Linked DNA regions of Homo sapiens. The protein of the gene in region 2 interacts with the protein of the main gene of each other region in a biochemical or structural test. Each region holds a gene or a part of one and is shown on either strand. Other genes may lie near its edges. The genes, in order: COTL1, ACTG1, GZMK and WIPF1.

Region 1 (7,024 bases), on a different chromosome or scaffold from region 2:
CTGGAGGGAGGTAAAGTGGATCAGAGACAAAGAAATGACCACTAAATCTGGCAACTGGAATATTTACCAAAGACCTAGACATAGAGCTCCATGCTCTGGGTGTGGGTGGGCACCAGAATGAAATGGGGTAAAGAAAGGATGGGAGACAAGGAGGTATTTATAACACCTATAAAATCTGTAAGGGATGCTTTCAAAAAGTTTGCATTAACTTCTGAATATTTTCAAGGGACAAAAACCCAATTCACCTAGTGTTTAGGGAATGCTTTTTTTGAACTTGAGACACTGTACTTACCAGGAAGATACACATCTATCATCCTTCATCATTTTCTGTTTGTGGTGACACAGCCACAAACAGAAAAGAAAGCACAAACATCACCATGCAGTAGACTGAAAGAGCTACCACAAAGCCCACGCCCCTGTGGACACACAAAAAAGCTATGCAGCGTGGCTCAGGGCCTCCCAGCAACAGATCTGTGGGCAAAGAAGGCAATGGGAGACTGGATAGTGCAGAAAATTACAAAGGTAATGTTTTCGCAGCCCTTCAGGGTACCACTTAAAAACAAAAACCCAGCCGGGCGGGGTGGCTCACGCCTGTAATTCCAACACTTTGAGAGGCCAAGGCAAGTGGATCGCTTGAGCCCAGGAGTTCGAGACCTGCCTGGACAACATAGTGAAACCCTGTCTCTACAAAAGATACAAAAATGAGCCAGGCGTGGTAGCAGGCGCCTGTAGTCCCTGCTACTGGAGACGCTGAGGTAGGAGAATCGCCTGAGCTGGGAGGCAGAGGTTGCAGTGAGCCAAGATCGTGCCACTGCACTCCAGACTGGGTGACAGGGCACGACCTTGTCTCAAAAATTAAATTAAATTAAAAACCCAACATTGTTTCTGGAGCAAAGTAGGAACCCAATAAAATGTTTGTCGCATGCATTAACGGACAGACTGTTCAGCACTTTATAACTGCCCAAAGCCCTGTCACAGATTTGGAGCTTCTTTTTGATGTCACATTCCCTTAGACCTTAGGAAAGAAAGCAATTTCTCTCCTTCCCTTCTCGCCCAAATTTCTGAAACCCGGGTGTGTATGTTCAGCTAGGGAAAAAATATTCAGGTGCAAAACAGCACGATAAATAGACTGCCGGCTCTCTGTGTGTTGTATTGCCATATACGCAGAGGTCATGGACAGCAAGTGAATTTGACTCCTTCGCATTCCAGCTCCCTTCTTTTGGTCGCTATACTCCAGTTTTCCGTAGGAACCACCTCTCTGCCACTCTCAGTCTCTGTCATCCAGGTAGGGCTGATGCCACCTCCAAGAGGCATCCCCTAGGCCTGCACTAAGGCCAGTCAGTCTTCCTGGAGGCATAGCAGGCCAGAAAATGGGGCTGTGAGACAGGAGAGTGCAGAGGCAAGGAAGGCCTCCTTCAATCCTTTCTTCAACATCTATGCCAAGTGGTTAGTCGGACTCTCCTGACATACCTCCTGTGATGGGGGCCTCACTTTCTCCTCTGGTAGCCCGTTCTACCTTAAGGGCCTCTTCCTCTCCAGGTCAACCCAAAATCTATCTGATATGGTTTGGCTCTGGGTTCCCACCCAAATCTCACCTTGAATTGTAATAAGTGTCAAGGGCAGGACGGGGTGGAGATAATTGACTCAGGGGGGCAGTTTCCCCCATACTGTTTTGGTGATAGTTCTCACAAAACTGATGGTTTTATAAGGGGCTTCCCCCTTCACTTGGCTCTCAGTCTGTCTCCTGCTGCCACGTAAAGAAGGATGTGTTTGCTTCCCCTTTTGCCATGATTGTAAGTTTCCTGAGGCCTCCCCAGCCATGCAAAACTGTGAGCCAATTAAACCTCTTTTCTTTATAAATTACCCAGTCACGGGTATTTCTTCATAGCAGCGTGAGAAGAGACTAACACACTATCCCTGAATTCCTACTGCGTGGTCCCATTTACCACATAGGGTTGGTGTGGGGGTAGGAACACAAGAAGTCCACACTTACCACATGACAGCCCCTCAAACATCTGAAGACAACACTGGTGTCTCCCAAGGATCTCTCCTCTTGGTCTCACAAGGTTAAATATGCCCAATTTCCTCAGTCAGTTCTCACATGAGAGGCTTTAAATTCCTTGTCCAGCCTGGATTCTCCTCTCCTCTGAGACTGTGTCCAGCTGCCTAACCTGGAGACTATGGCCAGGACTCTTTTAGATGGAAACTAAATCCAGAACCCACTCACACTGGCCTGAGAAAAAATATTACTTGGCTCATGAAAGTGAACCGTCTAAAGAGAAAGCTTCAGGCATGGCTGGATCCCAGAGTTTTCTGGCACGTCACCTGTCTCCACTCCCACCACCAGGCTCTGTTCCTGAGTTCTCAGACAGGTACTCTCTATAAATGGTAGACATGCCCTGTGAGCTCCAAGCCCTCATTATTCTTATTTGTTTTAATCCCAGAGAAAGATAAAAAGACTCTTTACCAACAACTCTGTCCAAAGTCTCAGGGATGAATCTGATTGGCTAGATTTGAGTCACAAGGGCCCTTGAACCAATCGGTTAGCAGAAGAGTGGCTTGCTCTGATTGGACAGGTCTGGGTTATGTGCACTCTCACAGGAACTACATTGGTTGACCAGGATTATTATGAAATGGAAGGGAGAGGTTCCCCCAAAGGAGGGAATGCTGGACAGAAAAAAAAACATCAATCTCTACATCTCTCTCTGTGGTGTTTTGGGTTAAACACTACTGGCTGACCAGAGCCTCATGGGAATATCATCTCCACCCAGACCATCATCCAACAAATGTCACAGGGCACCTGCCTCCAACCAAGCATCTTCATGATGCTGCCCTTCATGAAGAAGCCTTTTCTGGTAACCACCCCACATCTCAAATTTATTTCAACCTATCCATTGATATGTAACACCTTCTGAAGGTGCTACTTTAACAATAACCACATTTATTGAGCTTTACTCTGTGTCAGGCAGTACTCTACAAGCATTATATGGAACAAGCCAGTTTATCCTTACAGCAACCTACATGCAATCATTATCCCCACCTTTACAGACGAGAAAACACAGACCCTGGGAGATCTGCCCAAGGTCACACAGCACAGCAAGGCTATCGTTCAAAGCAAGACGCCCCAGCCTCACCACTGATGCTCTTAACCAATCAGCTCTAAAATCTGCACCAACAGAAAACTGGACTCATTCCCAGATGCCTGGATTCCTTCTAAAATAAAACTGCTTGCAACACATAATTTGAGGTCCATGGATAGAGGATTGCTTTAACAATGTCACATTTGTATGAGAGAAACTACGTAGCCATTTTTAAACTGGTATTGCAGAAGAAGAGGGGAAGATAGGGAAGAAACTTTGGCATTACAGTTGTTGTGGGAGGTGGCTCTAAAATATCTATGATCCCCTTTTGTAGTAGAATTACATACAGAAAACTATTTCAAGAATATAGATAAAAATGAGACCAGCGGTCTGTCCTGGGAGATGACAATAAAATGTCAGCTCCACGAGGACAGGCGCCTTTTCTGCTTCTGTATTTATCCTCAGTGCCTACAGTCGTGCCCCACAGAGTAGCAGTCCCATATGTCGAATGAATTAAATGAATAAACAGGAGAATGAAGGAATAAACACAGGAAGGAACAAGTTCCTGAGTGTTTGCAAAACTATATCTGAACTATATCTACTTGGTATTCTCTTCTTTTGGTTTAGTCTTGCTTTATGAGTATGCCACAGAGAATATGTATTATCTGAATGGTGCAGAAACAAAATGTGATTTCACAGACAGCCCCAGCCACTGCCTCGCCACACATACGTGATCTGTAAGCCCTTTCTGCTGTGGCCAGGTAGATCATACAACCGGTCTGGCAAATGGCCCCTTTCCCTCCACCTCTGCCAGCTGAGCCCTGATTGCTCCAGGCTCCCAGTGGCTCTGTCAGGTGAACCTGTGACCCTCCAGCCCAGCTCAGCACCCATTTCCTTCCCATCATCTCTCCCCCTTCCATCTTCTTGGTGCTCTTGAACGCTACTTCCACATCACTTGAATTCCAAAAACAAAAATGGCAATCGCAGTAATTGACATTTATGGAGTGCTCACTATGTCCCAAGCAGCATAAGGACTTGCTTCCTTAATCCTCCTAATGACCACACTGTAGCAGGTTACCAGATGGGTAACTCACCTGCTCCAGAGCACATGAATGGCAGGTATTTGAACCCAGGCAATCGGACAAAACCCAAACCTTGAACTACTGAGCTAAGCACCTCTCATCATGCTCCTTCATGCAGACCCGGGCCAAGGGTCTAATGCGTGTCCACATGGGGCCAAATGCCTATTGCATACCAGCCTGGGCCAGGTGCCTACTTTGTGCTGAGTGGGGACGTGTACTGAAAGCTTCCGAGTGGAAAGCATAATGCCTCTACGAGTGCTATCAGAGTAAAAATAATTATTTGAGGCCGGGCGCGGTGGCTCACGCCTGTAATCCCAGCATTTTGGGAGGCTGAGGCAGGTGGATCACCTGAGGTCAGGAGTTTGAGACCAGCCTGGCCAACATGGTGAAACCCCGTCTCTACTAAAAATACAAAAACTTGCCGTGTGTGGTGGCACATGCCTGTAGTCCCAGCTACTTGGGAGGCTGAGGCAGGAGAATCTCTTGACCCCGGGAGGCAGAGGCTGCACTCCAGCCTGGGCGACAGAGAAAAACTTTGTCTCAAAAAAAAGAAAAGCAGTGGTAGGGGTAGCCAACACACACCGTGGCCTGTGCTCTCATTTTAGGTGCATTACTTCAGTGAACCCTCCCAGTCACCCTCAGAGGTAGGCATGTCAGGATTCCCATTTTACAGACCTAAAAACTGAGGCACAGAGGGAGGGAGGCACTTGCCCAAGGCCACACACACAATGAGTGAGAAGCAGAGCGGAGATGTCAATCTAGAATGACTCTTTCTTTCTTTCTTTCTTTCTTTTTTTTTTTTGAGATAGAGTCTCACTCTGCTGCCCAGGCTAGAGTACAACAGCGCGATCTCGGCTCACTGCAACCTCTGCCTCCTGGGTTCAAGTGATTCTCCCGCCTCAGTCTCCGAGTAGCTGGGATTATAGGCGCCGGCCACCATGCCTGGCTAATTTTTGTATTTTTAGTAGAGACAGGGTTTCACTGTGTTGGCCAGGCTGGTCTCGAACTCCTGACCTCAAGTGATCCACCTGCCTTGGCCTCCCAAAGTGCCGGGATTACAGGCATGAGCCACGGCGCCCGGACTAGAGTGTTTCTGATTCCAAAGTGTACTCAGAGTTGAAATGAAGAAGGAATCACACTAAGCTAGGTGGGTGGCTGAGTCCTAAATGAGTTGAGATGGGGAAGAGGAATACCGCATGGTAGAAACCTCCAAAATCAAAAGCACCAAGACGGGAAATGTTACAGTGTTGGGCTGCAGATGTGTGAGGGAGGGTGTGTGGAGCTACTAGAGAGGAGATATGGGTGGGGACAAACCGACTAGAAAGCCAAGCAGACAGCATGAGTGTAATCCAATGGGGCAGAAGGGAGCCATAGAAGGTTAATGAGCAGAGGAGTGACTTGATTAGAAATGTACTGTAGAAAGAATTACCCCAGCAAGGGAGGACAGAGTGGATACCAGACAAGGAAGATTAAGGGCAAATAGACTGTTGCTATGAAGAGGAAAGCAGAGATGTTAAGGGGCAAATGGACACTTTTGTGAAAGTGGCATGCCATTCTTCCCTAGGAAGCCACCTCCTCAAGTCAGTCTCCTGGTTTGAGTGGGGCTGCCCCGCCCCCCACCCACTCCAGAGGTGGGCATGTGATCCAGGCCTGGCCACGCAGAGTCTCCATGATTGGTCTAGGGATGGGCACATGACCTCAGGGCCAAAGACAGTCCAGGGACCCCCAAAATCACTGGCAAAGAGGCTTGCTCCGTCTTTCCACCAAGATGGCTCTGCCCAGGGGCTAAACCTCCCCCCTCCCCGCAAGAATGGAGGTGAAGGATGAAGACAGAGCTAGGAGGAGGAGGAGAGGCTGTTTGGAGTTCGGGCAGTCTTTGCTGCTGCTAGGACTTCCCCTGGAGTTTCCAGGCTAGAGGCCACAGTGGATTTTCTGCTTACATTAATCTGCACTGGGCATTTCTCACCGCCCTCGCAAGGTCTCTGACCATCCCAGGCGAACTGAGCTATGGAGCAAGAAGCAAGAGCGGAGGTAGCGGAGGGGCAGGCAGCGAGGAAGGCCGGGAGCCAGGCAAGCTCGGGAAGAAGCAGCGCAGACCCAGAGCAGGCAGAAAGATTGGGAGGATGAGTGCGGGGGTGGGAGGGAACTGGCCTGGCAGCACAGACACCCCGTGGCCCTCTGGAAAACAGCTCTGAGGGAGGAAAGGCCAGGCCAGGAGGCTGGGAAGAAATGAGGAGGGGAGGCTGGGTGGAGAGATCCCATTCTGGAAAGCCGTGGGGGAGGAAGGGGAGAAGGGACAGTAGCCTGAGGTGGGAGGGCCAGGGAAGGGGGTGTTTCAGAGAGAATGCCTGAGTGCCAGAGTGGGGAGGGTTGGGAGAAGAGCAGGACCCCAGGAAGGCCCACACCCTGAGGTTATAAGGAAGAAACTGGGTGCTGTTTCTGGCCTTCCAAGTCTGCTGGCCACCTTGTGAGATGTTTGGAAGCAGGAAGCCCGAACCAGAGTGGAACCTTTCTTCTCAGGCCTGTCAGGATACCTGGCAGGGAACTGGGGCCACAAAAGAGCCCTCTCTGAGTCACAAGTGGGCAACCATGTCATTTGCAACCTGCAAGCAATCCCACGAGAGGTGAGAATCTAAACAACCTCCTCAGAAGCCAAGAGCACCTGCCCCGAGCCAGCCTGCCTGGGTTCAAGTCCCAACTCTGCCACTTTCTAGCTGGGTGAATGCAGGAAGCCTATTAACCTCTCTGGGCCTCCGTTTCCTCATCTGTAGAATAGGAGTAACCTTAGTACCTGCCACACCAGGCTGTTCTGAGGTATGACCAAGATAAGGCACGTCGAGCGTGGTGACTGCTATCCAGCCA
Region 2 (7,019 bases):
ACCTGGCCACTCACAGCCAGCTGCCCAGTGACTCCGCAGGGGTGGGGTGGGGGGCAGCCAGCTGAGCCTTCTGAGCTTCAGTCTGCGCAGTGGGGCAGGAGAACCAAGCCCCAAGCTGGGCACCAGCCAGGAGACAGAAGTGTGGGACCCTGGCCTTGTCCCTTGAGCCAAAACTCAGAGGCAGCCAGGCCGAGTTGCAGGAAACCAGCCTTGCCCACCGGGACCAGCCTTGGGACCACTGTTCCTGAAGAGGCAGAGCCCACTCCAGACCTGCCCAAGGGAGCCAGCCAGGCCCTGGAAAGAGCTTCAGGAAACAGGGCCATCACCTTGCATTTCATCTGTCCAAAAGGGTGTGGGAGAAGAGGGAGGTGGGCTGAGAGTAGGGAAGCTTTGCTTGCCTTGGATTCAAGTTAGCTTTTTATTATGGGAGAACTTTAAACTTACAGAAAAGTTGCAAAGACAGTGGGAAGGTTTCCCAATGCTCTATTCCCAGTGTCCCCTAACCTGGCATCTTACACGGTCATGGGACAACTGCCATAACTGAGAGATTAACCTTGATACTTACGGCCAAACTCAAGGCTGTGGGCTTTGCTAGTTCTTCCACCACTGTTCCTTTTTCTGTTCAGGGTCCATCGTTTCATTTAGTGGTGGAAGATGAGACACTCCAGGCTGGGTGAGGTGGCTCACGCCTGTAATCCCAGCACTTTGGAAGGCCTAGGCGAGTGGATCACTTAAGGTCAGGAGTTCAGGCCAGCCTGGCCAACATGGTGAAACCCTGTCTCCACCAAAAATGCAAAAATTAGCCAGGCATGGTGGTGCACGCCTGTAGTCTCAGCTACTCGGGAGGCTAAGGCCCGAGAATCGCTTGAACCCCGGAGACAGAGGTTGCAGCGAGCCAAGATCGCGCCACTGCGCTCCAGCCTGGGCGACAATGAGACTGTCTCAAAAATACAATAAAATAAAATATAAAGAAAAAGTAGACATTCCAGGCAGGTAGAGTGACAGAGGCAAAGGCTAGGGGTGGGGACCCATGCCCACGCCCCCATGTCTGTCTGACAAGTAGCCGGCCAGGTGGTTGGCGGTGGGGACTGGGGGGCCCTGTCAACTGGTGTGGAGGTGACCCAGAGTCCGGGGGCTGATCCGGTGCAGAGGGAGGAACAGGGCAAGGAGCTGGAGGTGGGGCAGTGCAGGCCGTGGAGGGCGCAGGCCCTGGGTTAAGCCTCAGCTCTGCCATACCTCCCTGGGCCACTGTTGTCGTATCCACTAAATGGGCCGAAACTAAAATAAGACATAACAAGGTCATGATAAAAAGCCATCAAAACCAGCACTGAACTAGAAAAGAAAAATCACATCGCTTCTCCAGGCCCCAAGTCTCCCTTCCTGAAATGTGAAGGACACACCCACCTCTGGCGGAAGTGCAGCTGCCGACTCTCCCGGCTCCGGAGGCCGCCCAGCTACCCCCAGCTCCATCCATGCGGTCCCCTCCCCAGGCCCAGCTGCCCGGCCCTCTCCGGCACTGGTTCCAGAAGGGTGGCGGCTGCCCTGCGCCACTGGCTTCCCAGAGCATATCCAGGACAGGCCCCGCGCGACCTTGGGCGAGGCCCCGCTGCTAAACAGAAAAATCACAGCGCGCGGTCCAGCCCCCTGCGCCCCGCGGGCTCCAGGCCTCGCCCTGCCCGCCCGCCCGCATCCCAGGGACAGGCAGACCCGCATCCCCGCCGCCGTCGGTCCCGGGACTCCCCAGGCTCCGAGGCCCCCCACGCCCGGCTCCCGCCCCGACCCCTCGGAGGCGCCGGGCCACTCCTACGCCCCGAGGCTGCCCGGCCGCCGCCCCTCTGTCCCGCGCGCCAATCGGCGGCCTCCTTGACTAAATAAGGCCAGGAGCGCCGGGCGGGCGCCCCCCGTCCGTTACTTCCGCCCCCCGCCCGCCGTGACTCAGGCCCGGCGGCGGGCGGGGATGGCGCTGCCCCGGGCCGGGCTTCCCGGCGGAGGCGGGCGGGGCTCCGGCGGCGCCGAAGTCGCCAAATATGGCCGCGCCACCGCCCCCCGCCGCGTACCTGGGCCACACCTTGACCCCTGCCGCGTGACGCGGCCGCGGAGGAGGAAGTCGCTCTCCACCCCCGGCCCGCGGCGGCGTCCCCTCCCCGCCCCTCCCCGCGGCTCAGGCCCTGCGGGTGGCGGGGAACCCGGGGGTCTCGAGGCGCCAGCCTCGCCCCCGCCCCCACGACCCTGGCGGCCTCGGGTCCGCAACGTGGGGAAGAAAGGTGGGGGACGGGGACGCGCGCCCGGGGCCGGCACCTCCCCGCACTTCCTAGACAAAGAAGCTTCGGAGGAGACCAGAGACCCGGAGGGGCAGGGTCCCCGGCCGGCCCGGAGCAGAACGTAGTGTGGGGTGAACGCAGGATGGAGGGGCTTGTGGCTATTCCCCACCCGCCTCGTGTCCCTCGGTGTGTGACGTCGCATCTTGGGACCCCCCAAGTGGAAGTCCTCACCCGGGGGTCGAGCAGGCTGTGTGGTTCTGCCCAGGGACGCGAGTCCGGGTGGGTCTGTTGGAGGCCCAGCCCCGGCTTCGCCACGGGAGGGAACATACCTGACAGCCTTGCCCGGGCCCCCGGAGATTCTGGGCCTGGGGGCGCTCAGCACCCCTGGGAGGCCTGGGGCACGGGGGCCTTAGGCACGGGTCTCGGCGTCCGGGCTGACTGCAGCCCGCAGGTGAGCTGGGCCGGCCGCCTTGCCCTGACTCGCTGTTGTCACTCCCAAACACGGGGTCGCGAGCTAACGTTGCAGGGCCCCGGACTCCGCGTGGGGACCCCGGCCCCGCCCCCCAGCCTGTCGAGTCAATCTGAACGCTCTGCGACCTCGGGCGAGTCCGTCCCCTCACTGCGCGGCCTCACTGCCACCCCTACGCGGCCGGCGCTCCAACCCTGAAAATTCCAGCAGCGCACAAGGAAACCGTAGTGCCGGGCGCCTCTCGGGGTGTAACCAAAGCACCGGCGCCGCTCCTGGCGAGGAGTGAGCGCCCTGGACAAGCCTGTGGCTAAACCCACGCCAGCCCTGATCGCTGCTCTTAACTAGCATCGTAAACAGAAGAGGGTATCCCCCCGACCGCCCGAAGCTGGGGAGCCGACCTTCAAAAAAGTCAGGGCTCCCATTGTCTACCTCAGTTTCCCTATAATGTCTACAGGTGACCAGAATGAAACAAAGGCCTCACTCCACACCACCTTCTCAGCACATAAGGGGGCGGGGTAGCCCCAACCCGGAGCGCGCGCCTGGGGACAATCAGGCCTGTGATTTGAGGGGCAGGGATGTGTCGGGTCGGGTAGAAAGGGGCCTCGGTCTTCAAACGAACGGAGATCCGGGGCAGGGCGCCCCGTGGAGGGACCTGCATGGTGGTGGCTGCGCTTGGGGACGGGCGGGCTGTTTCCTATGGTGACCGGGGCGAGGTGAGGGCTCCTGAGAGCTCCCCCGCGCCCAGGGACGCAGAGCGTCGCGGACCCCCGCCGCGCCCCTTCCTCAGCCCGGCACTGGCGCCCGAGATCCTCGTGGAGCCCGAGGGGAAAGATTGCAAGGGACGTCCCAGGGAGCAAAGCCCCGCAGCGTGGCCGGGGACTCGGGGACCCACCCCAGCTCCGGCGCGGCCCCGCCCCGGGTCAGGCAGTTTCGGGGCGCAGCAGGGCCCTCCCCACGGCGCGGCAGTCCCGGGGAGGGGCCAGGCCCGTCAGCCCTTCGGCCCTCCCGGCGACCCTCGGAGGGCGCCCCAACTCAGACCCGCCCGCCGGCCCGCGCAGGGTCGCGAGCGCGCGGGGGTGGCGCGGGCGGGGCCGTTGGGAGGCGGTGCGGGCTGGGGGCGGGGCGGGCCGGGGCCCCACGTGTCCCTGCCCGGCGGGCCAATGGGTGCCCGGCTTTCGGAAAGATCGCCATATATGGACATGTTCTGGGGCCGCGCGCGCCGCCGGGCCGCGCGGGCGCGCCGCTTCCGCTTAAATAACGGCGGGGGAGGCCGCGGTCGGTCTCAGTCGCCGCTGCCAGCTCTCGCACTCTGTTCTTCCGCCGCTCCGCCGTCGCGTTTCTCTGCCGGTGAGCGCCCCGCCCCGGGGCCTGAGCTGGACGTCGCAGGCCTGCGCCCCCCGACCCCGGCTGGCCCCGCTTCCAGCTGCCGAGGCCTCGTCGCGCCTTCCCCGGGAACAAAAGGCGGGGTGGGCCGGGTCAGGCGGACGGGGCTGGGGGGGCGCCGGGGGTCCAGGGCGGGGCCCGGCCGCAGTGCAGACTTCCGAGCCGTGGACGTTACGTAAAAGGCCCGGCCTTCGGTTCCAGGCGGTTGCGATCTTGGAGGCCACGGCCGCTGGGGTTGGGGCAGGGCCGAGGCTTCCCCGCGGGAGGGCATTAGGTGGCTGTGGGGAGGGGACCGTGTTACAGACGCGCCCGCCTGAGTCCATCCTTTTCCGGGCAGGTCGCAATGGAAGAAGAGATCGCCGCGCTGGTCATTGACAATGGCTCCGGCATGTGCAAAGCTGGTTTTGCTGGGGACGACGCTCCCCGAGCCGTGTTTCCTTCCATCGTCGGGCGCCCCAGACACCAGGTGAGTGGATGGCGCCGCGGGGCTCCTGGGTTCTGCGTTGCGGGGTGGGTTCGGTGTCGCCGGCGAGGCTGACGGGTCGTCCCCTGCAGGGCGTCATGGTGGGCATGGGCCAGAAGGACTCCTACGTGGGCGACGAGGCCCAGAGCAAGCGTGGCATCCTGACCCTGAAGTACCCCATTGAGCATGGCATCGTCACCAACTGGGACGACATGGAGAAGATCTGGCACCACACCTTCTACAACGAGCTGCGCGTGGCCCCGGAGGAGCACCCAGTGCTGCTGACCGAGGCCCCCCTGAACCCCAAGGCCAACAGAGAGAAGATGACTCAGGTGAGGCTCGGCCGACGCCCGTGCTCCTCCCGTCCTTTCCCCAGTCATTTTCTGCCCGGCTTGATTTCTGACATTTAAGTGTTTCTTTCGCTGTTCCAGGCTCTGTTCCTCTCCCGGCATTTCCTCCCTGAAGCCTCCAGGTTTCTCATTTGGTTTCTGCCTGCGTTCTTTTCTTTTCTCCACACATCACACTGGCATGCAGCATGTTGTGGCGTGTGAGCATGGGGTGGCCGTGGGTCTCTGTCCCTGACTAAGCCGCCCCTTGTCCCTTCTCAGATTATGTTTGAGACCTTCAACACCCCGGCCATGTACGTGGCCATCCAGGCCGTGCTGTCCCTCTACGCCTCTGGGCGCACCACTGGCATTGTCATGGACTCTGGAGACGGGGTCACCCACACGGTGCCCATCTACGAGGGCTACGCCCTCCCCCACGCCATCCTGCGTCTGGACCTGGCTGGCCGGGACCTGACCGACTACCTCATGAAGATCCTCACTGAGCGAGGCTACAGCTTCACCACCACGGCCGAGCGGGAAATCGTGCGCGACATCAAGGAGAAGCTGTGCTACGTCGCCCTGGACTTCGAGCAGGAGATGGCCACCGCCGCATCCTCCTCTTCTCTGGAGAAGAGCTACGAGCTGCCCGATGGCCAGGTCATCACCATTGGCAATGAGCGGTTCCGGTGTCCGGAGGCGCTGTTCCAGCCTTCCTTCCTGGGTAGGTGTTGTGAGCTAAAGGTTTCTACTCTTACATCCTCGGTGACACAGCATCACTAAGGGAGGGCTCTGTCCCCTAGGTATGGAATCTTGCGGCATCCACGAGACCACCTTCAACTCCATCATGAAGTGTGACGTGGACATCCGCAAAGACCTGTACGCCAACACGGTGCTGTCGGGCGGCACCACCATGTACCCGGGCATTGCCGACAGGATGCAGAAGGAGATCACCGCCCTGGCGCCCAGCACCATGAAGATCAAGGTGAGTCGAGGGGTTGGTGGCCCTCTGCCTGGCTCGGGAGAGCTGACTGGGGGGCGCTCTGTGAGCTGAAGCCGTGCCTGGCTGTCTTTGCAGATCATCGCACCCCCAGAGCGCAAGTACTCGGTGTGGATCGGTGGCTCCATCCTGGCCTCACTGTCCACCTTCCAGCAGATGTGGATTAGCAAGCAGGAGTACGACGAGTCGGGCCCCTCCATCGTCCACCGCAAATGCTTCTAAACGGACTCAGCAGATGCGTAGCATTTGCTGCATGGGTTAATTGAGAATAGAAATTTGCCCCTGGCAAATGCACACACCTCATGCTAGCCTCACGAAACTGGAATAAGCCTTCGAAAAGAAATTGTCCTTGAAGCTTGTATCTGATATCAGCACTGGATTGTAGAACTTGTTGCTGATTTTGACCTTGTATTGAAGTTAACTGTTCCCCTTGGTATTTGTTTAATACCCTGTACATATCTTTGAGTTCAACCTTTAGTACGTGTGGCTTGGTCACTTCGTGGCTAAGGTAAGAACGTGCTTGTGGAAGACAAGTCTGTGGCTTGGTGAGTCTGTGTGGCCAGCAGCCTCTGATCTGTGCAGGGTATTAACGTGTCAGGGCTGAGTGTTCTGGGATTTCTCTAGAGGCTGGCAAGAACCAGTTGTTTTGTCTTGCGGGTCTGTCAGGGTTGGAAAGTCCAAGCCGTAGGACCCAGTTTCCTTTCTTAGCTGATGTCTTTGGCCAGAACACCGTGGGCTGTTACTTGCTTTGAGTTGGAAGCGGTTTGCATTTACGCCTGTAAATGTATTCATTCTTAATTTATGTAAGGTTTTTTTTGTACGCAATTCTCGATTCTTTGAAGAGATGACAACAAATTTTGGTTTTCTACTGTTATGTGAGAACATTAGGCCCCAGCAACACGTCATTGTGTAAGGAAAAATAAAAGTGCTGCCGTAACCAATGAATGGCTCCTGTTTGGGGAAGTAGCAAGTGGGCTGGGAAAGACAGACCAACCTGGAAGTATTGGGTAGTCTTGGGGGTGGGGGCGGTGGGTGCTGCTCAGCTTGGCTTCGTGGGCTGGTGAGAAAACGGCTTAACAATAAACTGAGCAGTTCGATTTCTTCCAAATCGAAAGTGCAA
Region 3 (7,225 bases), on a different chromosome or scaffold from region 2:
ATTGTATAACAATACTCGATAACATCTATTAAGTTCTTTGTGTTCTGTGCTAAGCATTTTACAAAGCTTCCCTCATTTAAACCGCACAACAGCGTGGTGAGATAGGTATTATGACAATCCCCATTTTATAGATGAAGAAATTGAGGTTCAGGTAAACGAATAAACTTGAGGACCTTTGCCTCCAGGAGGCAAATTCGGGCAGGATTAAAGCTCAGTTGGCTTGAATCTAGAGCCTGAACATTGAACCATTTTGTTCCAGGAGCCTTGAGCATTTGAGATGGAGTGAGGCCATGTGGAAGGGGCTGTGGAAGGTTCCATCTAACAACTTGCTAGGCAGGTTGGGGCAGGAGGAAGTGCTCTGTGAGAGGGGCCTGGGAGAGAATCAGGAGAACAGGGTACAACAGCTGGTGAGAGTTTTGCTTCTGGTAAGTTAAAATGCTGAAAATAAGTTTGTACAGGACATTTTTTATCAATTTCCTTTTATATTTGACATGGCAACTAATAAAGGGGCCAGAATATTGAGGGAGGAGATGTGTGGATGGCTGGTGAGAAGGGAGCACTCCCAGGTTTGGCCCTCTTCAAAATTTTGCTGAGAGAGAGGCTTGGGGCAAACTATTCCCACAGGATACTGGGGAGTACATTTGTGGGAAGCCACCATTGAGCTATTTTGTAAATATTTTGAATTTCATAAAGCTTAATATTTTTCCAACCACCGATCTGCCTACTTTTTACACCCAAGTGTCCTGTAGAGGAAATTTGATCTACATATTTTGCAGTTCTTTATACCCCAGCCATTTAAAATGATATTTAGCAATAGTTTGTTTTAAGAAAAAAAAAACAAAACACAAAAAACTCCAAGACCTCTCTCCAGTCTTTTGTCAATAATCTCTTTCCCCAATTTGGGAATCCGCTTCTCGTGAGTTAAATCCACTTGACAAAATTTAAAATTCAACTTAGTGATATTATTTAATTTCCTATAACACTTTATGGCTAGTGAAGCACTTTTTCATACACCATGTTTCAGGCCTAGCCAAAGAAAGAAAGAAAGAAAGAAAGATCTTTCAGTGTATTTCTTTCTTTCCATCCAAAGTTTGTTGAACATTTAGAAGTCAAGCTCTGTGTCTGGGGAGGTTATAGACCATTTGAATGTGTATTATGAGCATATTTGAAGATGTGCATATTTTGCATCAAATGAACATTCGCTGACAGTTCCCCACTCTGTCTCTCTGATCTCGAGGGGGCAAATGCCCTGGAGAAGAGAGAAGTGATGGGGATGAGAGTGTGATTTCTATGAGGGCAAGAACCCTGTGTAAATGAAGTAACCATATTAAATTGGAAATCAGTGGCTTGCTATTTAGAGATAGCAGAAGATCTCCCAGTTTGCAGGCTTCAAAACTTCCAATTTGTGATCAAACAGTTCCATTTAAATGGGGTAATCAGACAAAACCCCCAAAGCATAGAAAAGCAAATCAATTCAATTGTTCTGTTTAGATATAGACAATGCCTGGAGAGCAAACCATTACAGCTAAGAGAGATCTTTAAGTGAAAGAAAAGGAGAAGGCTCCATTTCAGCTTATTAGGTAAGAAACATAAGGAAACATATATACAAACAAAAAACAAAACCAAAAACCCAAGCAAACAAACAAAACAACAAATACCAAATTAGTTTTCTACTGGCATTTCCTTTTGTGATGGTTGCAGCATCCCAAGAGGGGTTTTGTGCTTTATTAGCTGAAGTAAGAGAATCCTAGGCTGAAATGGACTTTGGAAGGTTTTACTCTGTCTTCAGAAAAGCTTTCATTCTAAGTATCCTAGAAAATAACTCTCTCATTATCTTTCTCTTTCTAGAAGTCATCAATAACTTGTTTTTTTCCACCTAGGAAAGTTGTAAGTGGTGAGTAGCTACTGTTAGGTAGCTACTGTTAGGAGTGGCAAAGTAGGCTTCTCATGCGTATAATACTAATGATAATAGCTGCAATTTTTTTGTGCTTACTAAATGTGCCAAGCATGCTAAAATACTTAAACAGATACTATTTAATTCTCAAAACCCACAAAGCAGGTATGATATGATTATTACCCCTTTGTAAAATGGGGAAGCTCAGAGCACAGAGCAAGCTCAGGTTGTCTGATTTCCTTTTGAGCAGTGTGATCTAACAAGGTCAAGAGTACTGCTGCTTCAAGTATTACTGTTGCTGTGTTCCCTGCATTATACAGAGGACTTGAATTTGTCTAATGTCTTGCCTGGGAAAAGCAGCTCAGTTCTCTCTGAAAAGGAAAACCCAAGACAGAAAGCGTGGATGTGGAAGAAGGTAAATAAACGCCACCAGTTGGTCAGTAACCACAGAAGCTAACAGTAGATCAAATTCTCATTCAGGAGAGGTAAGCTTCTCTTGTACCTATAATAACTTTCAGAAAAAACACATGTCTGGAAAAGTGTGGAGGACTCACCGATATTGGCAGTGGGCTGCTGTCAGCACCCACTGTGGATCAATCAGAACACCTCCACAAACGTGATGTCCGCCATACTGGATGGAGGCCATAAATGGCCTGGAATGAGGTGACACTTCTTTCCCTCCAATAATTTCCATATTGAAACCTACAAAAGTAGACCAAAAGGTTTCACACAAAAGATCTAAACTACTGTTTCATGTAATTCTTCCAATGACAGTCACTATATTATTTTCAAAGCTTAAAAAACAACAATAACCCTACCTAAAAGCTACAATAATTTTACTGATGAAAAATTTGTATAATACATTACAGTTCAGAAAGATAGGAATGATTGTGAAAATAATTTTCATCTATAATATAACAATATAGTCAGTAGAAATTCATTTAATGTTTACATGTAGATATAGGAGATACTTACACACATGAGTCATATAAGCCCCAACTATTAGGAAAAACAGAGAAAAGGAAGAAAACTTAGTCATTTTAAAGATTTAGATTTAAGAAGCCCAGATGAAATGTGTTGATCCTGTGATGAAGGAAGAAGATTCTGAAGACTGAGTTTTGTTCTTGTAAGTTTTGACTTTCTCACCACAGGTGCTCTAGGGGTAAGATTTTTTTTCACACCTAGGTGTAAACGTTATGTATCAGTTTGGGGACTTTCAGGTCTGTGCTTTTAGCACTTTTTTGTTTTGTTTTGTTTTGAGACGGAGTCTCTCTCTGTCGCCCAGGCTGGAGTGCAGTGGCGCGATCTCGGCTCACTGCAAGCTCTGCCTCCTGGGTTCACGCCATTCTCCTGCCTCAGCCTCCCGAGTAGCTGGGACTACAGGCGCCCACCACCACATCCGGCTAATTGCTTTTAGCACTTTTTTGGGAGAGGTATGTATGCCATAAAGAACTCATATCTGGAGATACCATCTCTAATACCTGTATCAGAGTACTTATGCTATAAAGAAAATTTATACTATATGTGTATATAATATTTATAAATGAAAAATATCCATGCCATAAGAATGTAATGAAGTTGCAGACAGAGTTCAAAGATGTCCATTGCTCTCAAGCAATACTTACTATTTTTCCTGGCACAAAATGGTGCCTATCATATTTCATTCTTCTCTCTTTTTCATTTGGACATAGATTTATGATGAAGAGAGACATGGACCTTGCACAGATTATGGTTACTTCACAATGTGGCTTAGCTAAAGCCTGAGCACCAACCAGAGAAAACCATATGTTTTGCAGCAAACATCCCTACTCATGTCGTTTCTCTAAGTTTGCCCAAATTTGGTTAAATTTTAGTTACATTTTTGTGAGATTTCATAATGTTGTTAAAGGTGAACATTGGCAACTATTTTTGATTCAGAGTCTCTCTTTTACTCATTTTTAATTGAAAATGGCCATGTGTTTTTCCAGGGACTTAATAATAATGTCTTTTAAAAATAAAGGACTGCATTTTGTAATTCTTCCCAGGAACAGATGACAATGCATTGCCAGGCCTTCAATACAAAAGGTATTAGACTCAAGATTCTACAAGATTCTGTTTGTGCCAGACACTGATCAGCAGTGCAAATATAAAATGAATACAAACAGATCACGCATCAGAATGCCAATCACTTCCTAGTAACACTGATCAAAATTTGCATTAAATCAACAGATCTTTCTTTTAAGAGGTATGCATTTTATCTTCCATTCATTTTAGAAAGGAGAATTAAAATCCAGAGCTATTATGCTCGGCAGATTGCAAGAGACTCCTTTCAAATTGTTTTCTAGCACAAAGAGTAGGAATAATAAAAAATAATACTATAATTATGTATTATTCATTATAACTTAATAATATATAAGTAAAATACCTTATTTCCAAAATTCTTTTTATATGATCATTTATGGTTTCATGTCTATGTCTTTGAGGAAAGCAGGACAACTTATGTTACAATGGAAGAAATAAGTTCCAAGAGGCTAAGTAATTTGCCCAAGGCAACACAGCTTATGACCTAGACCAAATCACCTGCCTGACCTCCCTGTATGTTAAGTTGTATGTGAATGAGTACCCTCCCAGAACACAGAATTTTATAAAAAACCTGCTTTCCTTGTACAGGTGTGTGGCAACAGTAAAGCTTTCTACATGTTAAACAGAATGAACAAAACCAACGCAGAGCAGTGACTTCCTGTCAGAGCAGAAGGTGAGATAAGGAGGAGCCAGATTAAGAAAAGCCACAAGCTTAATAAACCAAACTTATTACTCCCACTCAAATGTCCCTGTGAATTTTCAAGTCATCTTTGTCACTGTTGATGTACCTTGGATGCTCTACTGTGTGCCATTGTTCCACATTGGAAGGCAGACAGGATGGCGTCAGTTCCCTGCTACATCCCAGTGATGCTGGGATCGTAAGGAAGATGGTGTGTGACAGGTAGAAGTGATCCAAACTCTAAGGAAGAAATAAATTGTAAAGGACGAAGCTTTGTGTGTGTGTGTGTGTGTGTGTGTGGCGGGGGAAATGGGAATGGTTACAAACATCTCTCAGCTGCTTATTTCTGAGTAGTAAGGATTAATGTCCACATAGCGTTGTACAAATTGCTGAACGTTTTTAGCTGTATTTCCAGGGAAGTGGTTGTCATTAGTCTTGTTTTATGGATAAATAAACTGAAATTCAGGGACTTGCTTGAGATTACCGAGCTAGCAGGTGGCCCTTAAGCTCCTATGTGCTGGCTCCCGGCTCTATGTTCCTTTCAACCTGGCTACATGCCTGCCTCCTTTGAGAAGTCCCTGGGGGTTTAGGGGCTCTGAGACACAAGCTAGCTGTGCAGAAGAGAAAAAGGATTTAGCCATACACACTGCGTGTAATTAGACATGGGTGAGATTTAGTTCAGTTGGGAAGAGTCTCATAACTCTTTCTTGTAGCTGACCTAGAAAATTCTGAGAATCATGTTGGTTAATAGTAATGAGTTATTTGGTTTTGGCTTTAGACCGATTTGCCAGTTAATAGTATCATTTGTTATTATATTCACGATTCTGGATTTGAGAACAGTGGGCTGTGTAACATGATGAGCTCGGCGATCTAATTTATTTCTGGGTGTTGGTTTTTGTTCTGTTGAGTCTGCTGCAGGGAGGGCCATGTTTGCTTTGGATGGCTTTACAGCAACTGTACCGGACTGAGCAAGTGCAAGGCTGTGCTCAGAGGAGGGCTGGCTTCACACGTCATAGCCTTGTGGCTCTTCTTTGCTGTGTTTAGCTGTCTTTCTTGCTGCTCTTAGAGATGTTTTGTTTCTGCTTCTCCTGTGTTTCAGGAGACCCTTATAGAACAGCTGTGCCACTGCTCCAAAGGCCTCGTGTGGTTCTATCCCTTGGACTGCCTTTCTTCAACAGCCCAGACACCTGCTCTGTCAGATTTATAAGCCACACCCCCTAGAGCCATGCCAATCAAAGCATGGCCCGCAGACCTGTGCCAGTCTCCGAACCTCTTTGTTACCGATTTGGAGCAAGATGGGGACAGAAATTGAGAGCCAGAGTTTAGAAACTGTAACAGCGACTTAACATGGCACTGTATTAATTTATTTTATTAATGAAATAAAATTTGTCCAATCTAATAAAAATTGGGTGTGTATTTTGTATGCCTTTGTTTTTTATTTAATTACTTTTTTCTATTTATTTGTGTTGTATAAACGTATCAGTTCACAATGGGCTGAAACTAAAAACAAACAAATTAACAAACTAAAACTCCAAACACATTGGTCTTTCCCACAGGTAGTCTGAGAAACACTGCTCTGTAGACATAAGTGCAAAGCAGATTTGTTTCAAGCTCTTCCCATTTATTCCCTTTTACATTCCTTTGAAAAATGTTCTCAATATCAAGTTTTCCCAAGCTATCCAACCATCCCCAGCCCTTGGCACTTGACATCAGGATTTGGCAGAATTTCACTGGATCCCTCCCTTGTAGCCCACCACCCTTCAGGCCTTGACTTCTGTCCAGTAATGGCTTAGCTAATTTGGTAAATGTATCTGCTAACACCCATAGTGAAACTATGGCAGCTTTGAAAATTGGGCTTGGGAAGGATATTGGGGTGCTATATAATGATATTAAGTCCGAAGTTCTCAAGAAAATGTAAATCTCACCTCAGATTACAGCCATCCCTCCCACTAGGTCCTTAAAATGAATGAGCTTAAGGGCAGTTGGCAAGGAAAGCAAAGTACCCCTCAACTCAGAGCTGGGGCTGTAATAAGGGTTGGGGCACCTGGAATACTGCCTTTTCCTAAGCAACTTAAATGTAAATACTTCAGAGGGCTGCTCTAGGGCCTCTTCTTGGTGGAATGATGGTGGTGGCAAAGGTGAGATTGAGGGAAATTTGTTTTGTCTTCCTCTATCTCAACTTTAAATCAGAATATATTTTGCATGTTAAATCTTCCTTTCATAAATATGAAGATACGTTTTCTAAACCATCATTATTGAGTTAAGTCACACAATAGTACTTCAACTTCCTTTTCCTTTACTCCTCTCCACGTCAGCTATGAAGTGACTGGAATGGATGAGAATTGCCTTAAGTGCAGGATCCTCACATATGGAGTAATCAGGAAAATACCTTGAGGACTTGGCAAATAGGGATGTCCCAGCACTGCTGGTGCTGGCTGCCTGGTCATACACTGTCCCTATCTCAACTTTGTCTCCAGGCCTTACACTGCCCTTTTATGACTCCTTTTTCTTTTCTTCTTTAGAGCAGGCTTTGATGTTCATTTTAACTAAGTTCAAATGTTATGGGTGGGATGAGGAAAGTGCCACATGGG
Region 4 (7,397 bases), on a different chromosome or scaffold from region 2:
CAGCTTTATGATATAAGCAGAAGTGTCACCAAGTTTACCTCTGAAGAAGTGAAAAGACTTAAAAAGGAAAATATCTTACTTGAGATTGTTAGTTTTAAAGATATTTACTGTTGCTGTGACATTTAAAGCAAAACATTTGTAATCTCAGATTCCCAAGGCCGGAAAAGCACCTCAAGAAATCATACTGGCTGGGTGTCGTAGCTCATGACTATAATCCCAGCACTCTGGGAGGCCAGGGTGGGAAGATAGCTTGAGCCCAAGAGTTTGAGACCATCCTGGGCAAACATAGTGGGACCCTCATCTCTACAAAAAAAAAAAAAAAAAAAAAATATATATATATATATATATATATATATATAATTAACTGGGCATGGTGGCACACATCTGTAGTTCCAGCTACTTGGGAGGCTGAGGTGGGAGGACTGCTTGAGTCCAGGAGTTTGAGGGTGCAGTGAGCTGTGATCATGCCATTGCACTCCAGTGTGGATGACAGAGCAAAACCCTGTCTCAAAAAAAAAAAAAAAAAAAACAGAAAAGAAAAAGAAAAACAGAAATCATACAATTTATAATGTTGCTTCCAAGCTGCACTTGTGAAAAAAAGCTCTTACAATTCAGATAACTTCCTCCACATTTAGTTGTTAGGTGGCCTTGGGTAAATTACTTAGCTTATGTAAGTCCGGTTTTCAAAATAATAGCACCTACTTAGTAGGGTTATTCAAGAGTTAAATGAAGGAGTGCTTAATAAGTATTAGCCATTTTCAAAAAATAAAATAAGCAAAGGTGAAGAACGTAACACAAAATAAGTGGTCAGTAAATATCACAGTCTTTCCCCCTATTTAACCACGAGAAAGAGAAACCATGAGCTGATTTAAATCAGCCTATGTGTGTACACCCATGCAAACTTCCATATTACAAGTGAATGGTGAAGGGAGATGTGTATAAAGTGCATTTCAAATTTCTCAGAAAAGCATACTGATTAAGGCATTCCTTATTCTAGTATTTTTTTACAGTTTTAATTTTCAGGACAGACAGAGGTATTTATGGAAGTCCAGGAGAAATGCTTTCTTCAACAACAAGCACATGTTTAACAATTTGGACAAAATGAGTCAAACCTTAAAGCAGAAATATATCATAATTTAAACAGCCAGAAACTTCCAAAGTAAATGATGTGTGTTCATAAAATGTTAAGAAGGCTTCAAAAGGTCATAACACTTAAAGGGTCCAGGAATTCAGTATCACTTCATCTCATATTTTAGGTAGGCTGGGGAACTTCCAGCCTACAGGCCAGATTTAGAATTTGATCAGATCTGAAGTTGCTGCTCGATCCCAGGAACTAATTTTCACCACAGGGAGTTCTCTGAATATTTCAGTCCACCCAGAGTATGTGTAACCCTTAAAAGGTTAGATATTAGAGTAGCTGAAGCGCTATGAGCAAATAGCCCATGAATAAACTTTTCAAAGAGCAATAGAAAACCTGACTTAGTGAAAAATGACTTTCAGGTAAGTCATTTAATGACCTTAGACTGATAAAAGGAAGAGTTTTGACATGATGATATTCCAGTACAGAAGAACAAAGCTTGATAAAGTTAACACATAGCACTGTAGTCCAAGTGAATTGTAAGAGTATGATTTCCACACAGATCAACCTCAAAACCTTTTCCCAGTTTCTCATCTTCCTTTCTCACTGTCCTGTCCTATTCTTTCCCCAGTCTTTCATCTTTCTCTCTACCAAGCTGTCTTACTTTGCTTAGTTAGAATCTTTCAGTAGCCTTTTCATTTACCACCTCTCCATTCTCTACTACATATACTAGTTATGCCATTAAATTATTTAAAATAACTTGTATGCCTGTAATCCCAGCACTTTGGGAGGCCGAGGCGGGCAGATCACTTGAGGTCAGGAGTTTGAGACCAGCCTGACCAACATGATGAAACCCTGTCTCTACTAAAAATACAAAAACAAAAAAAACAAAAAACTTGTACTTAGTGACTAAAGTTATATGTGCCTTCTGAGTTTTTTAAAGCTTTATTTTATATTTCTTCACGGGGAGAAAGGAACATAAGTCAAATTGTTTCTTCCTACATATTCTAGAAAAAAGTTTTTTAATGTAAAAAGTTTCCTTAGTTCTGCTCTATAAGCCTCTGAGTAGATGGCTTGAAATTTTAAAAATCACAATATTTTATGCCAAAACATTAATCATATTAAACATAAAGTTATAACTAATGCTGTAGAATTTGATTTGCGATAGTAATTGTGCACACACTGTTATAACAGGAATAGACTTATTCTAAAAGACAAATCGTATTATAAAAGACTCTGCTTAGAAATGGTTTAGTTTGAGTTTTGAACTTAAATAGCACATTGGCAGCAACAGAACTGCAACAGCTTAGTTCCATGGTATTTTCGTTTGAAGCTTCCAATGGCTCCTTGTACTTTAAAGCACTTATTGTTGCTGGCCACACCAAAGATTCAAAGGCAGTTGTGTGGACAACTGTATCATACACCAAAAGGATATATTTACCGACATAAGCCCCCAATTTAAATGGGAAAATAAATTCCTGTGGATCCAAACTTGTCCAGTGGTCAAAAAAATTCTATTGAAAATCTTGCTTACATTTTGGCTCAAAGCATAAGTTATGAATCATTCACAATCACCATAGTGGTGAAACTAGCATTCTGGGCAACAGGAATAGCTCACATGGTGCTCTACAGAAAAATTAAACAACTTTATCTTGACATACTATGGTCCATTAAAAGCCATTTAGTTCTTCCCTGTAGCTGATAAATGAAATAAACTTAGTTTGAATATAATTTTTCTTACCGTTAAAGGGTACTGCAGGGAGCCATGGTCAGGGACACAGGCAGACAGAGGGCCAGCGGGACAGGAGCCAAGAGAGAAAACTGTCCCTGAAAAAGGTATCATCTTCTAACGCAAGTGTGGGGTCGTTTTTGGACAGCCATTTTGGACAAGCTCTGGCCTCTTGTTAAATGTGACATACTGAGTCAGAGGCAGACGTCCTTCTGTGGTTATTCGCTTCCTGTCTGATTAATTTGTTGTTTGTTGTTCCTTCCTCCTTTGCTGCAGAAAAAGAAACTAGATTGGTTTTGCTTAAGAAGCAAGCAAGAAAAAAAACCTAAATTAAAAAAAATTAAATGTTTCTCCTCCCCACAAGGTGTAATACACAGCTATTTGGTACAGTGACAAGAGGAGATGAGCACCTCCACTCAGTGAAGAGTCCAACTTTATTCTAGATATTCCCACAAAAATAACTGTTCATGGAACTTGAGATTCCTTTAGGAAAATTATATTTGAAAGTATCACTGTAAATACTGACTATTCCATTGAGTAATAGGGAAAAGAGTCACTCAAGAAAGAAAAGCTCTTACCTACCTTACCTTATCGCTTCATTAGGCTAAGGGCTTCTTCTCATTTACAGGGCATTCAAGTGTGTGGGGAGAAAGTTACAAATGCAGGTAAAGAGAGCAGGTCAGGTGTATGAAGGCAAATGAGGTTCTTTTTTTGGTTTTGTTTTATTTATTTCTTTTTTTTTAGAGAGACAGTCTTGCTGTCACTTAGGCTGGAGTGCAGTGGCGTAATCATAGCTCCCTGTGGCCCTGACCTCCTGGGTTCGAGCAATCCTCCAGCCTCAGCCTCCTGAGTAGCTGAGACTACAGGCATATGCCACTGCACCTGGCTAATTTATTTTATTTTTATATTTGGTAGAGATGGGATCTTGCTTTGTTGCCCAGCCTGGTCTTGCACTCCTAGCTTCAAAGTGATCCTTCCATCTTAGCTTCCCAGATTGCTGGGATTACAGGCTTGAGCTACCATACTTGGCAGCAAATGAGTTTTGAAACGTGATTTTGGTGCCCAAGTCAGGGTAATAATATACAGCTTAAGTCAGCTGCAGATCCATAGCTTTCTATGCCAAATGTTTCTGTCCCCCACACTTAATGGGATAACAGTAACTCTCCTAGAAGATGCTTGACAAAAGCATAGAGATAAAGAGGGTGGAAGGAAGAAAGTCAGATTTCTCATTATTAAAGAACTCAAGAGGTGGATGGCAATGGAATACATGTAGAAAACATTTTATCAAAACCTTGAGTTATGTATAGAACGATCTGAAAATGCTCATAATTTTTTCTTAACCCATCTTAAAGGTTCAGACTTACATATGCAACACATAGTATATAACTCTGAGAAAACAGTAACAGTCAAAGAATTTAAAAGAGAGGCATATTTCAGAAACTAGCTTCATTGTAAAATCTGAATGTTGGGTCCTGATTCTGCTAGGATCAGAGGCCAGAGGCATGAAAAGAACGTATGTTGTCTAACATTGCCTTACCTGTAAAGTGATGGAACTGGGCTAGATGAGTAATTTTCAACTCAGGTAGCTGTTGGGGGTGGTGAGCAGTGAGTGGGAATGGTGGGGGCAGGGGCCTGTAGCATTCAGTGGGTGGGGCCAGGAATGGGAAATTTCCTATGGTGCTTATGACAGTCCCACCCAAAATACCAGAAGTGCTCCTACTGGGGAGTACTGGGACAGATGATGTCTAAGGATCTTTTAAACTCAAAATTCCCTGAGATAGGAGTCTAATTGCATGAGCAGATTCATGATGCCAGGCCATGGGCACAGTTCCTGGAGTGGAGTACCCAAGAATAAGTGACTGAGAGTCCTCTGCTTTGCCTGGAGCCCCTTGAAGGCAGGGACCGCCTCTTGTCTAACTCTGGCCTGGTGTCCACCCGTGACTTAGGTCACAAATAAATACCTGCAGGCATGGGGCTGGACAGAGGTGGAGGCCTACAGCTATCAGCCACTTCCCGCGATACAAACCCTCAGGAAAACAGAAAACTTGATCAACTATTAAGTAAATGCCTGAGTGAATCTTTGGGGAAGTCTAATTATAGTTGGGTCTAAAAAGAGAACATGGGCGATATGACAATTTCTCTACGTATTTTCAGAATTATTTTGAAGTTCTCTAAGTAAGACACCCCAAACACACACACACACACTCTCTCTCTCTCTCTCTCTAGCTATCTCTCTCTCTCTCTCTCTCTCTCAGTACACATACCATTCATGGCTATTTCCATCCCTTAGGGGAGTGGTCCCTAACCTTTTTGGCACCAGGGACTGGTTTTGTGGAAGATAATTTTTCCACGGAGTGGGGGCAGGGGGTGGGGATGGTTTCAGGATGAAACTGCTCCAACTCAGATCATCAGGCATTAGATTCTCATAAGGAGCTCGCATGCACAGTTCACTTTAGGATTCTTGCTCCTCTGAGAATCTAATGCGCAGCTGATCTGATAGGAGGCAGAGCTCAGGAGGGAACACTTGCTCACCAGCTGCTCACTTCCTGCTGTGTGGCCTGGTTCCTAAGGGGCCATAGACTGGTTGGAGACCCCTACCTTAGGAAAAGCTCACTTAGAAGGGAGTATGTCACCTAGAAGGCTGCAGTCCCCAAGACATGCAAGGGAGTAGTTGTGTAGTTTGAGTCTATTCCTACAGTCAACTTTGGACACATTTATCAGGTGTCTACTATGCATGTTAGGACATAAATTAGATAATGTTCCTCCCCTGCTTAAAACCCTCCAATGACTTCTCATTTCACTTAAAAAGTCCAAACTCTTAGGTCCACAGGGACCCACGAGATCTGGCCCCTCCTTAACTCTCTGCCTTCATCTCAAGTAATATTCTGCCTTGCTAATTTACCTTCCAAATCTTTCTGTTCCTTAAATGCACCAAGCTCATTTGCATCTTCAGGCCTTTTACTTGCAAGCCTGGTACTCACGCCTGGTACACTCATCTTTTTGTTCCTTTTTATTCTTCAAATGTCAGCAAAAATGCTCTCCCTCATGACCCATTTCTGCTGTTTTCTTTTATGCATAGCATGCGTCACCGCTTGACACTGTCTTATTTATCTGTTTATTTACTTGTATGTTTCTCTCCACTAGAATTCAAGCTCTATGAGAGCAGGGACCTTGTCCATCTTGTTTCTGCTGTTGCTTCAGCATCTAATGCAGGTGTTTGACTGCTGTTGCTTCAGCATCTAATGCAGGTGTTTGAAAATAGTGTTTGTTGAATGGAAAAGAAAATCAATGTTTCTTACGAATTCTACTACAGCATAATGTTCCTTTTTTTTTTTTTTTTTTTTTTTTTTTTTTGAGACAGAGTCGTACTCTGTCACCCAGGCTGGAGTGCAGTGGCATGACCTTGGTTCATTGCAATCTTCACTTCCCAGGTTCAAGCGATTCTCATGTCTTGGCCTCCCTAGCTGGGACTACAGTCGTGCACCACCACGCCTGGCTAATTTTTTTTTTGTATTTTTAGTAGAGACGGGGTTTCGCCATGTTGGCCAGGCTGGTCTCCAACTCCTGGCCTCAAGTGATCTGTCCACCTCAGCCTCCCAAAGTGCTGGGATTATAGGTGTGAACCACCACGCTGCCCAGCATAATGTTCCTTTAAAAGCTTAAGACTGTTCCCCCTGAAATGGTAAATAACAAATGCCAAGACTAGACTTAAGCCTTCTTGGGAGAAGCTGTTAAAGGGAAATTTTCCAGAGAAAAGGTCAGCAGGTAAAACCCTTGGCCCATCAGTGGGCCTGGCAGTGCAGGCAGAGTCTTATGCAGTGCAGGTGGCTTACACCATTGGGCAATGTGAAGAGAAAAATGGATTAAGAAAATTGAAAACAAATAGAACAATCAGAAAGGAAGGGGGGGAAATAAAAAGATAAAGAAAATAAGGCAAGAAAAGCTGGAGATGGGGAGAGATCATGTGGTGGGTAGAGGAGAGCTACAACCACACTGCTGACCTCAGAGGCTTTGGAAGCCACCTCTGCAGTGGATGACCCACAGGTGCTGGATGTAACAGTGCTGTCTGGCCTTCCGCAGTGAAGCGGAGTTCTCAGCTCAGTGTCAGCTTTTCCAGCAGCCACGTTCTTTAAAAAGAAAAGAACTTTAAGGCTGCAGGAGACTTGCAGAGATCAAAGTCTACATCACCACTTACAGAGGAAGAAACAGGGGTCCAGAGAAGTTAGGCATCCTGCTCATGTCACACAGCTGGCAGCAGCAGAGCAGTGGCCAAAGCCTGGGCTCCACTCCACTGTCCAGCGCCATTAATGTCTTTAGCCTCATTTCAGGTTCGGGTGATACCACCTACCTCCTTTCTGTAAGTACAAGAAGAGGCAGAAGAAAGAGGGTGGAGAGAAAGGCTGTGATGCGGATGGGAGAGGTTGTTATACTATAACCAAAGGCCTGAGATAAGTGGATTGAAAGCCTGGATGAATAAAGACAATCACAATTCTGGACTTAAAGAGAATTTTAAATGCGTATCTCTTTCCCATTTAATATGCATCAGTCTGAGCTTAATGACAGAGTAAAACAATAACCAATAGGCTCGCA

Evidence for each region.
Region 1: the proteins of ACTG1 (region 2) and COTL1 form a complex in vitro, tested with the Homo sapiens proteins (one study listed by BioGRID).
Region 3: of the proteins of ACTG1 (region 2) and GZMK, one has a biochemical effect on the other in vitro, tested with the Homo sapiens proteins (one study listed by BioGRID).
Region 4: the proteins of ACTG1 (region 2) and WIPF1 form a complex in vitro, tested with the Homo sapiens proteins (one study listed by BioGRID).

Annotation. Positions count from the first base shown.
Region 1 is NC_000016.10:84,608,055-84,615,078, forward strand, and holds part of COTL1 (coactosin-like protein), read right to left. Parts: intron 1-7,024. UniProt on the Homo sapiens protein: Binds to F-actin in a calcium-independent manner. Has no direct effect on actin depolymerization. Acts as a chaperone for ALOX5 (5LO), influencing both its stability and activity in leukotrienes synthesis.
Region 2 is NC_000017.11:81,509,792-81,516,810, reverse strand, and holds ACTG1 (actin, cytoplasmic 2), read left to right. Parts: upstream 1-4,011; 5' UTR 4,012-4,077; exon of another isoform or gene 4,078-4,196; intron 4,197-4,450; 5' UTR 4,451-4,456; coding exon 4,457-4,579; intron 4,580-4,668; coding exon 4,669-4,908; intron 4,909-5,184; coding exon 5,185-5,623; intron 5,624-5,702; coding exon 5,703-5,884; intron 5,885-5,977; coding exon 5,978-6,121; 3' UTR 6,122-6,840; downstream 6,841-7,019. UniProt on the Homo sapiens protein: Actins are highly conserved proteins that are involved in various types of cell motility and are ubiquitously expressed in all eukaryotic cells.
Region 3 is NC_000005.10:55,020,031-55,027,255, reverse strand, and holds the start of GZMK (granzyme K precursor), read right to left. Parts: upstream 3,001-7,225; 5' UTR 2,934-3,000; coding exon 2,870-2,933; intron 2,597-2,869; coding exon 2,449-2,596; intron 1-2,448.
Region 4 is NC_000002.12:174,594,782-174,602,178, forward strand, and holds the start of WIPF1 (WAS/WASL-interacting protein family member 1), read right to left. Parts: upstream 3,024-7,397; 5' UTR 2,820-3,023; intron 1-2,819. UniProt on the Homo sapiens protein: Plays a role in the reorganization of the actin cytoskeleton. Contributes with NCK1 and GRB2 in the recruitment and activation of WASL.